Regions from separate parts of the Homo sapiens genome. Here region 2 is linked to region 1. Evidence: fine-mapped expression QTL. A gene starts in region 1. The other region holds a variant in brackets. All regions are shown on one strand. Distances are from middle to middle.

Evidence for each region. PIP is the estimated chance that this variant, and not a neighbour inherited with it, causes the effect.
Region 2: its variant is the best candidate, but not a certain one, in a credible set for the expression of JADE1 in whole blood (TOPMed, PIP 0.54).

The regions. Positions count from the first base shown.
Region 1 is chr4:128,807,579-128,812,960 of GRCh38, forward strand. JADE1 (jade family PHD finger 1) reads left to right here and starts at 2,122. Exons shown (of 11, transcript NM_199320.4): 1 at 2,122-2,299. RefSeq lists silencers at 1,945-2,424, 2,935-3,054, 3,685-3,964, 4,085-4,184, 4,365-4,934 and enhancers at 2,525-2,634, 5,378-5,382.
Region 2 is chr4:128,938,545-128,943,926 of GRCh38, forward strand. SCLT1 (sodium channel and clathrin linker 1) reads right to left here. Exons shown (of 21, transcript NM_144643.4): 17 at 4,452-4,644. Among named protein-coding and RNA genes, the nearest start is that of JADE1, 130 kb to the left of the region's middle. The variant T/C (reference allele first, on the strand shown) is at 2,376.

The sequences.
Region 1 (5,382 bases):
CCGCCACCACACCCGGCTAATTTTTTGTATTTTTAGTAGAGACGGGGTTTCACCGTGTTAGCCAGGATGGTCTGGATCTCCTGACCTCGTGATCCGCCCGCCTCTGCCTCCCAAAGTGCTGGGATTACAGGCATGAGCCACCGCGCCCGGTCGACAAAAATTTTCTTAACATGAATGCGTGAAGTAAGGCTGTTTGGAATTTAGAAAAGTTGCAATTTTTGATGGAGAGAAAACCAAGAAGGAGTTGAGTGATGGCCGAGGGAGTGGACAACCTCCTACTGCCAGGGCCTCTACTCCTGAACTGTTATGAGGTTGCCTGATTCCTCTTAACAACCCTTCAGGTTAGGGGCCAGCTGTTAACTTAATTTTATTACCAGGGAAGAAACTGAGGCTCAGATAAAGTTCTTTTATCCCACAGGCACACAAACTGCTAACTGATAGAGCCAGATCCAGCCATGTCTGGCTACAAAGCCTGTGTACTTTAACTTCTACAGAGAGTATGTGCGAGGTGAACCAGTAAAAATAACAATAACAAGTGCAATACTAAGAATAGTAATAATGATAGTTAACACAGTGCTTTACATGTGTGATCGCTTTGAACAGGATTAAGTGAACACATGAATAGGACTGGCAGGGAGTCTTTCTACTCTTCATTAGCGAAACAGGAGAGGACATATACAGTACTTAGGATTTCCACTGGCTTACTTTGTTTTCTGAAAAATAACTGAAAGGCTCAATTAGTTTTGTTTTGTCGCATTTATCAGATTATAACGTTCTGGATGTGGGTCTGGATGTGGGTAGTTGGGCTGGTGTGGGATTACATGAAATCAAACCTGATATATTCAGAAAGATTCTTCCGGTGGACACATATGCCTTTTGGGTTCGATATTCAATTTTGTAATTAGTGATCACTGTTCCTATTTATTTATTTATTTATTTGAGACGGAGTTTCGCTCTTATTGCCCAGGCTGGACCACAATGGCGCATTATCGGCTCATCACAACCTCCACCTCCCGGGTTCAAGCGATTCTCCTGCCTCAGCCTCCCCAGTAGCTGGGGTTACAGGCATGTACCACCATGCCCGGCTAATTTTGTATTTTTTAGTAGAGACAGGGTTTATCCATGTTGGTCAGGCTGGTCTTGAACTCCCGACCTCAGGTGATCCGCCCACCTAGGCCTCCCAAAGTGCTGGGATTACAGGCGTGAGCCACCGCGCCCGGCCTGAATGGGAGTTTTTAATCCGTACTTTTTTCTTATTGAAGTTGAATGTCATATACCCCTCTATTTCCCTAGATGAATCCATGAAAGAAGTATGTTGCCCTCTATATGAAAAAGCAAGCTTGTCTTCTGCAGAAAATCAGTAACCACTCCTTTTTACACATAAATACCCCCAAATGAATCTCCGATGACTGATCTGATACTAGTCTGCAATTCTAGTTTTAGCATTAGGCTCACTCCTCATATTTGGGAGAAGATGTCCAATTCTGTAGTAATGTGTAACATAAAGTGGTGTCAATTTATAAATAATATCTTCTAATGAATTAATGCTCATTTGCAATGATCACTTCCATACAAATTTAGGTAAAGATGTTATTCAGAATTGGATTCTCTCTATTTAAAAATGTCATCCTAATGTGCAACTCCCTAAAACTGTTACTACAAACAACTATTTTGCCACTCAGCCTAAAAATAAAACCTTTCACCCAAATGACACATCTTAATAGCCATATTTTAATCTACGTAATTTTAAACTATTCTGAAAGAATCCATTTCTAGATGTCAGACAAGAGTTGAAACTGGGACAGCAGTTTGAAGGGGCTAATTTAAAAACCCACTTGCTTGGAGACACCTCAAGAATTTCTAGGCTCACAAGGTGGGTGAAGTAAGGAAAGAGACTAAGAGCTGAACAGTGCCGTTCTTTGCGAGCCCCCACTGGCGCAGGCTGAGCCGGCTGCGGCTAGGGCTGCGAAGAGTTAACGAGGGACCGAGCCCCAGCGCCGCGGGCTCCCCGCATGCTCCCTCCGCCCTCCCGTCCCCACCCTCTCGTTTTGGCAAGGGATTAAAGTGCTCCCCCCTGTGGCAGCAGTGACCCAGAAATGAGTTTGATTCACATAGTCCTTCCTCCATAACAAGCCAAACGCCAGACCGAGAGTGCCTCCGTGCGCGAGTGCCCGGTGTGTGCGCGCCGGCGAGAGCAGGGGCCCGCCCGGCTCCCCGCCCGCCGCGGCCCGAACTCATGCAGCTCCGAGCGAGCGAGCGGCGCCCAGCCCAGCGCCTCGGCCGAACCCCTCCGCAGCAGGTACGCGCGCGGGCCGCGGGGGGCGCGCGGGGTGGGCGCGCCGCGCGTGTGTCCGCGCGTGTCCGCGTGTGGGTCCGTGTGCGCGTCCCGGTCCCGCGGCGGCGACGGCGGCGGCGGCGGCGGCGGCTGCAGGACGAGCCGAGAGGCTCAGCCATATTTGATGGTTTTGTTGCTTTGCTCGGGAGTTCTCGGGAGTAATTTAATGCCGAAGGTCGCTGCCTAGTGGAAATAATATAATACGTCATTAATATGGCGCCAAAAGATTGGGTTCTCGATCTGTAGCGAGGAGGGAGGGAGGCAGCCGCTGAGCGCAGCGTTACTATCCCACCAGTAACTTGGGCATTGCCGGGGCGGGGGCCGGAGGAGGAGGAGAGGATGATTTTTGGATCCTGAGAATTGATCTATGTTGGATCAGTAAGTTTTATTATGATTTTTTTTTTCAAATTTGGGGGGCTGAAGACTTAGAGCTATTTCTTCTTTTGGATTTGCGAAGAACATGCGGTTTTCAGGTGAATCATCAATTAAACGCGTTTAGGAGCAGAAGCCCAGTTTAAGTTGGCTTTAGTTTATAGGTTTTTTTTTTTTTTTTTTTTTTTTAGAAAGCCAAAGTGCATTAGGCTGCATGAAAGTGGAAAGCATAGTAGCAACTTGGTAGACAGATGGCAATGGCAGAACGCAGGTTCGCGTACATATATGAATCCAGAGTGTGTGAGACCGTGTGTGTGGTGGGACTGTATTTGTCCAAACATAGGTGTGCGTAGGTACATCTGTGTGTGGTGGCCGCAGCCCTGGCTCTTGTCACCGCGTCACCACATGTCCAAAATATTCATTGCATCAATTCAAGGGCAGTGAGAGGGGGGTGGGGGTGGGGGTGGAGGGACAGTTTGGCAATTAGATTCTTCCGAACTGGGCTTCCAGTGATCAGATCTTTTACTTACAGCGCGACTGCTTGTAAAGTGTAAAACCCCTTAATCGATGAAATGGGGTAGGAGTTGGCGTTGGTAGAGCAAAGTACCGATTAATCGTGAACTTAAAGGGGATTGCAAATTGCAACCTTTGGCACCATCTGCAAATTGTGGGGGTGGGGTCTCTTGGTCTCCTTGCTTCCTTAAATGAACGTGTAGTGTGTACCCCGGGACTGCAAGTTGCAGAGCCCTTCAGTGCACGTGTCTTGTGCCTGTGAGTCTGTGTTTGCGAGTTGGGGGCTGTTGTTCGGTAGCCAGCAGGCTTTCCGGGTTGCTCGGCATTGGCTTGCAAATGCGGGAGAGGGATGGAATGTGGAATGTTGACCGGGGAACCGAATCCTGTCGGAACGGTCCCATTTGCTGGAGAAATTCGATCCCTTCCACCTCCTTCCCGCTCCCCCCCGCCCGCCTTCGGGCAGGAGGCGGGGCTGAGGACGCGGCTGCTGCTCAAAGTGGCGGAGCGCGGCGGCGGGAGGCAGGTGCACGGCACCCGCCAGTGGGGGTGCCTCAACTTCCGCGGGCGTTTAAATAGCAGCCTCTCTCCCCTCCCACCGGTAATAGGTGACCTGGCGGCCGAGGGCGGCGGGGGAGGGAACCGGGGGAGACTCGGGAGCGAGCCTCCGCGGCACGTGGGCAGGTGCTGGGTGGCCCCGGGGCCAACTTTTGTAGCCCGCCTCTGGTGTTTGAGGAGAGGCGGCCCAGTGTGGAAATGGGGGCGGGCGGCGGCCGAGGCGCTGCTTCTCCGCTGCGGCCGGAGCGTCACCTAACGGTCCCAGCTGCGCCGCCCGGGCCGGGGTGGGGGGTTGCGGGGGCGGGGACGCCCGGCCCGCCGCGCCCGCCCCGCACAAAGCCCGCGGCGCGGGGGTGGCCGCTGCGCCCCCGCCCCGGGAACGGCCCGAAGCCCGACGCGGTCCCCGCGCCGGTTCCGGCGGGCGGCCGCAGGCGTTTGTTTGTTGGTTCCGCGCCGCCTTCCTCGCCGGATGGCTTCCTGTGACAGAGGTGATACACAGTTTCCAGAACTGTCTGGGGGCGGGAGCGGGAGCGGGAGCCGAGCCCGCTCGGAGCTCCTCGCCGCCGCTGCCGCTCCCATCTTAAAACCGTTTCTCGCCGGCGCGCCCGCCCCAGCCCGAAGGTGCCGCCCCGGAGGGACTCGGGGAGGGGGACGGCGCGGCCGTTTCCAGCGGCGCAAGTGGCTTCTGGACGCGAGGGAGCGTTTGATTTGCAACTGGGGCCGAGCGGATTGGTGCAGCTGGCGGCGGCGGGGCGGGAGGAGCTGCCGCGGCGGGGGGTGGCCACTTTCAAATGGAGAGGGCGGCGGCGGCGGGGACGCCGCTGCGGAGGGAGCGGGGCTTGGTTGCGCCACGAGAAGGTGTCATCACTGCACCGGGGCTAATTCCGGCGGAGGTGCCGGGAGTTACTTTCCCCTCCTCCCGCGCTGTTGTTTCTGTCGCCTCGGGAGGAGGAGGAGGAGGAGGATTGGGAGAGAGGGAGGGGTCGGCGCCGCGCGGAACCGCGGCCCTGCGCATTCCCCGGCGGGCGGCGGGAGCCGCGCGGAGCGTTCGCCGCTGCGGGGCGGCGGCCGAGCTCCCCCACAACCCCGGGGTGCCCCCCTTGCTGGGATCCTTAGCCTTCTCACGTCCCCTCTCACTCCGCCACCCTCCCACTAGAGCTCCTTATTCTCGAGTCCTCAACCCCGGCTTGGCGCGTCCCGGGTCTCCCCTCGCCCCAGGATTCCTCCCGCGCCAGGCTCCGCTGGCCCCAGGTTTCCCACCCCAAGCGGGTGGGGGCGGCCGCAGTCCCGGCGCCGGTGAATGCTGAGAGCAAACAAAAAAGCGGGCGATTTAAACATGCCTTCGAAACCCGTTAGGAATGCGTCGTCATCCGGAGACCGTTTAAAAGGAGCTTTAGCTTGCCTTCTAGTAACGAGAGGGCTGGCGCCCTGCCTTACTTCGGCAGGGGCGAGGGGCTGTCGCCCTCTATTTGCCCCGGCCAAGAGGGAATTTAAATTTTCTTTTGTAAAATGACAGCTGCAGTGAATGACCTGAGACAGCTACGTTTTTAGGAAAGTAGGAGAGGATCTGAGGTTTCCATTAATGGGAATGCTTAGGGGGTTCTTTC
Region 2 (5,382 bases), 130 kb after region 1:
TTCTGCAAATTTAGATTGCCTGCCCTTTCTCCTTCCCTTCCTTAATCTTCATCTCCTCTGGAGAAGTCATGTTGGTCTAACATCTCAGGTGGAAAACAAAAAGTACAGCCCCTGTGAGTTCTTTCTTATGAACACATGTTAAAAACTGATCTATGGGCCAGGTGTGGTGGCTTATGCCTGTAATCCCAGCATTTTGGGAAGCTGAGGCAGGCAGATTACTTGAGGTCAGGAGTTCGAAACCAGCCTGGCCAACATGGTGAAACTCCATCTCTACTAAAAACACAAAAATTAGCCAGGCGAGGTGGTGGGTGCCTGTAATCCCAGCTACTCAGGAGGGTGAGGCAGAAGAATCGCTTGAACCTGGGAGGTGGCAGTGGCAGTGAGCCAAGATCACGCCATTGCACTCTAGCCTGGGCAACAGAGCTTCTCAAACAAACAACAAAAACAACAACAACAACAAACCACATATGCACACAAAACTGATCTATGCATCTGTACAGTTTTAGAATTTGGCTGCCTAGTTAACTCCCCATTTTCACTTGGAAAATCTATTTATCGTTTCACAAGCTTTGCTTTAAGACCCTTTATGATAACCTGGTCCCTGCTTACTTTTACAAGCTTGTGTTGTGCCACACTATTCCCTTGCCTTTCTTTTATTTCCACTATAATGCCTTTTTATTCTTTGGTTCTTTTCACATGCTGTTTCTTTTGCCTGAAATAATCTCTTTCTGCTTACCTATTTCAACTTTTGGAACACAGTACGGTTGTCAAAACATATTTGCAGATTGAATGGTGGCTTTTTGATGTCAAAATTCAGTCTCGAACAAGCACCATAGCCTTTAGTATATACAATTCGAATTACTACCTAAATTGGACAGGTCTGTGGTAATGCTGACAGGCTAAGGGCCACAACAACTGATCTCCGATTACAAAAATTCTATTAATGATAAAATTCAGAATGTTGGATGGGAAAAGGGGTTTTATGGTCTCTCTTCTTTCTTGCTTCTTCCTTCCTTTACAGAGAAATATCCACACAAGTAGATAACTGAATTGCTGGAAACGACTCCATTTCTTAATTTTAGATGGTAATGAGGCGGAATTTAGACCATGAAGAAATGGAGAGCCCTGGCAAAAGGAGTGGTTAGAAAAGGAGAAAGCGAGGGCTGAAATCAATGCAGTGGCATTAAGATCAAATGAAAACTTCATATGATAAATTGTTAAGGTTTGTAGCCAACTGACCTCCCAATATCTCACTGTCTTTATCTTTTTGGCTTCTTTCAGTTTATCTACTGAAGATCATACTCTTTTGCAAGAGGGAGAAAAACAGCAAGGTGTAGGTGCACCAGGTTCCTATTTTGTCAAAGAAAGAATCAGTTACAAAGCAATTTATCTTACAGCCTTCTTCCTCCATAAAATAGAATTATAGCTAGTTAGTTAAGACGTTCGGCTCTTTATCAATGGCTATTCTCTTAAGCTAGATACAGATTTGGTGAGATATGTGGGGTAGATAAACTTTCTATTACTCTTTTGTTGTCCATAACATCAGTTACTATCCTGAAATGTTAAAGACGGATCTAGTGGAGTACTAGATAGGAAAAATTCATTGATTCCATCCCCACTCATTATAAAAAAAAGAAAGCAAAACAAATACATATTGTAAAATTATGGAAAATAACAAAGCATTAAAGTGAAATGTTAAAGACGGATCAACTGGAGTACTAGATAGGGAAAATTCATTGATTCCATCCCCACCCATGATTAAAAAAAAGAAAACAAAACAAATATATATTATAAAATGATGGAAGATACAAAGCATTAAAAAGACAACTATAAGGTCCCTCTATTCCCAAAACTCAGATAATCCCTTCTAACTTCTACATAATTGTTTTTATTTATGAATTCTAAAATTGTTATTACAGTATGTAAAGGATTACTACATGTATGTGTGTATACACATAAATTTTTCAATCATAGGGTGTATCAATATAAATGCATTATAAATTATTTGGAAATATAGTTTTTAATGACAATACAGTATCTTATTAAAAACATATACACTATATGTCAAAAATACATATGTGTACACACAGGTAGTAATCCTTTATACACTATAGTAACAATTTTAAAATTCATAAATAAAAGCAATTATGTAGAAGTTAGAAGTATTATCTGAGTTTTGGGAGTAGAGGGACTTTATATATTTTTTTTAATGTTTTGTATTTTCCATAATTTTACTATACATATAGATGTAACATATTTACTTCTAGATATTTAGGTTGTTTCTAATTTATTATAAATAATGCTGCAATGAACTTATTTATGAAATATTTTAATTACTTTCTTATGACTGAATTTTAGACTCTAAAGTAAATACG[T/C]ACCATTTAATACTTTTAGCTGCACGTTCACTTAGAGATACTTAGCAATTAATTAATGGTGAGTTTAAACTGCTTACTGCCTACTGTTTTTTTTTCTTAGATTGCAGATTCTGTTCAACTCTCACATGATTTTTTATTCGGTTACAAATAGTTTTCTCTTATATTTTTAAAAGCTCTTTAGATAAAAGCATGGGAAAACCTGCCCCCATGATTCAATTACCTCCCACTGGGTCCCTCCCATGACACACTGGGATTATGCAACTACAATTCAAGATGAGATTTGGGTAGGAAGACAGCCAAACCGTATCAGGATGTATGTATGTCTGGCTTTAAAAGATAATGCTACATTCCCAGCAGTATCTATCAAAGTTCTAATTGCTTTATATTCTTAAAAATACTTGATATTTTTAGTCTTTTTAATTTTAGCCATTCTGGTGGTGTGTAGTGTTATCTTGTAGTTTTAATTTAAATTCTCCTAAAAAATAATGAAGTTGAACATATTTGCCTATATGCTATTTTATGAAGTGCCTACTTAAGTCTTTTGGCCTTTTCTGGAAATGGAGTATCTATTTTTTTCTTTATTAGCTATTAGCTGTTTTTTCCTTATTAATATTTTTCTTATTAATTGGTAAAAGTTTTTATATTTTGGATATGAGTTCTCTTTTTGGTTATATGCACTACAAATACTTTCTCCCACTTTTCCCTTTCTTAATGGTGTCTTTTGGTGACTAAAAATATCTTAATTTTAGTGAAATCCAGTTCAGCTTGGATTTTTCACCATGGTTAGTGTTTTTTTGTGCTCTGTTTAAGAAATATTTCAAACCCAAAGGCAAGAAGATTTTCTCCTAGAAACTATCATTTCACATTTCACATTTAGGTCTACAAAGCAGCTCCAACTAATTTGCATATATGCTGTGATATAGGAGTTAAGTTTTATTTTTAAAATATGGATCTGACTGATCTAGCACCATTTGTGAAGCCAGTTTTCCCCCCACTGAACTGCAATGGTGCCTTTGTTATAAATCAAGTGATTATGATAAATGAGTTTGTTTCTAGACTCAATTTTTTGCCATTGATCAAGTTGATTATTCTTATGTTGATAACACATTGTCTAAATTATTTTAGCTTTTTATCAAGTCTTGATATCTGGCGGTATGGGTCCTCTCCTTGTTCTTCAAAGAACTCCCATAGTCTAAAGGTCAAAGTACAAACTTCTTTTTAAATAAGACTCTCTTTTTCATTTCGGAGTTCAAGGTTTTACAAATAACTAGGGCATTTCATACCTGCAATAGGAGGCATTCAATAAATTTATGTTGACATGAATTAGGTTGGAATATGACTTCTTAGGAGTCCTTGCAGCAATAAAAACCAAAATAAAACAGTGACATGACCTCTTCATATTCTTACTATGAAATTGGAAGATGTAGATATTTATCATAAAAAGTTAGTGCCACTTTTTACAAAAGTCTCATGACATGGGGAAAGGTAAGCAAGATGTTGATGAAGATTGTGTTACTTGAAAGTCCCTTAAAAAGAGGATCACCTTCCTATTACCAAACCATATAAGCATCAGAGGAGAAGGAAATAAGAGAGAAAAGAAAGGGAATTTGTTTTAGATGACATTTTTGCCTCTTGCCTTCTTCCTGCCATGGAATTTTCAGACTAGTTATGAATGGTTCTCAGAGCCTACTGCTTTAACATCCTCTATACAGTTAGTTTTAGAGAAGTTCAACTTTTCAAAGGCTACTACAGAGAGAGAAGAGAGGAAGGCAGTCTGTAAAGTTATCTAATCCATGGTTTTGCTAGTGCTGCTTAAATTGCTTTGGCAGGAATATCAGTATATTTCGTGGTTGGAAAAGAATTTTTTTGTGTGTAGCAAAGGCAATCATTTTCAAGTATGCCTGCCAAGTTCTACAACACAGAAATGATTGGTTAACACTCTGAATTATGATTTAGTGCTATCTGATGAGAAGGCAAAAAAAAAGGGGGCCTTAAAGATGTTTTGCTAGGTCTCTCTAAATATTCTCTATACTTTGATTTTCATAAGTACACATTTAACTCTAGTCTTGAAAATACCTTTACTTTGGCTTTTTTTTGAGCCTCCAGGGCAATCTTCCTTAAACTCTCAGTCTCTTTCCGTAACTGTTTATTTTCTTGCTGAAGTTTTAGCCTTTGTTCACTGACAAGCCCACAGTTCTCTCTCTCAGACTCCAATACATTTTGAAGTTTCTGAATCATTTCTTGGTAACGTGATATTTCTTCTGAGGAGCTGATTAAAAAACGAAATGAAAAGAATCCTTAAACTTAATGATCTATAGTAGAAGATAAAAGTCTGTCTACATTTTATCACATGGACTTTTGTTTGCTTTATTCTGAGCCATTTCTTTCCACTTTAGACTGAAACTATGTGGTTTCAAAATGTTATGTTATACCAGGCAAATACATTCAACTTAAATATATTCAAATTTTAACTAAGAACAGATGAATTGAACTGTTATCACTTATCTAGAAAATCAATGTGAGACTTCTTTCAAATTTGTACTAACATTAAGAATCACTGTGTATGGAGAACTTCAAGGAAATGAACTGAAGCAACAAAAAAAGGATGAAGCGGATAATAACCAAAACTCCTTTACTTAATCAATAAACTCCATGGACTAACACAATAGCTGACTATATTACTAAATTATAAAATCTACTTTTATATTTTTCCATTATATGTCTTAGAAATACTTTTTATAAACTTCTAGTTCTGTAAACTTCTTGTTTTATCATAGGTTAAACGGATTATATTTCCTGAACTGTCTCAACAATGGACCACTGATCACTGGGTGAGACAACCTCTATACATTAATGTTGCTTCAAATCAATATACTGCTAATTTTTATTCCTATCTTTTAAAACTTCCATCTTTTCAATAACAGATAAGCACTGTGAACATTCCCTGGTTAATAGGTTTCACAGGGAATTGTATGGAAATGCTACTAATATTGTGAAAGTTTAAGAA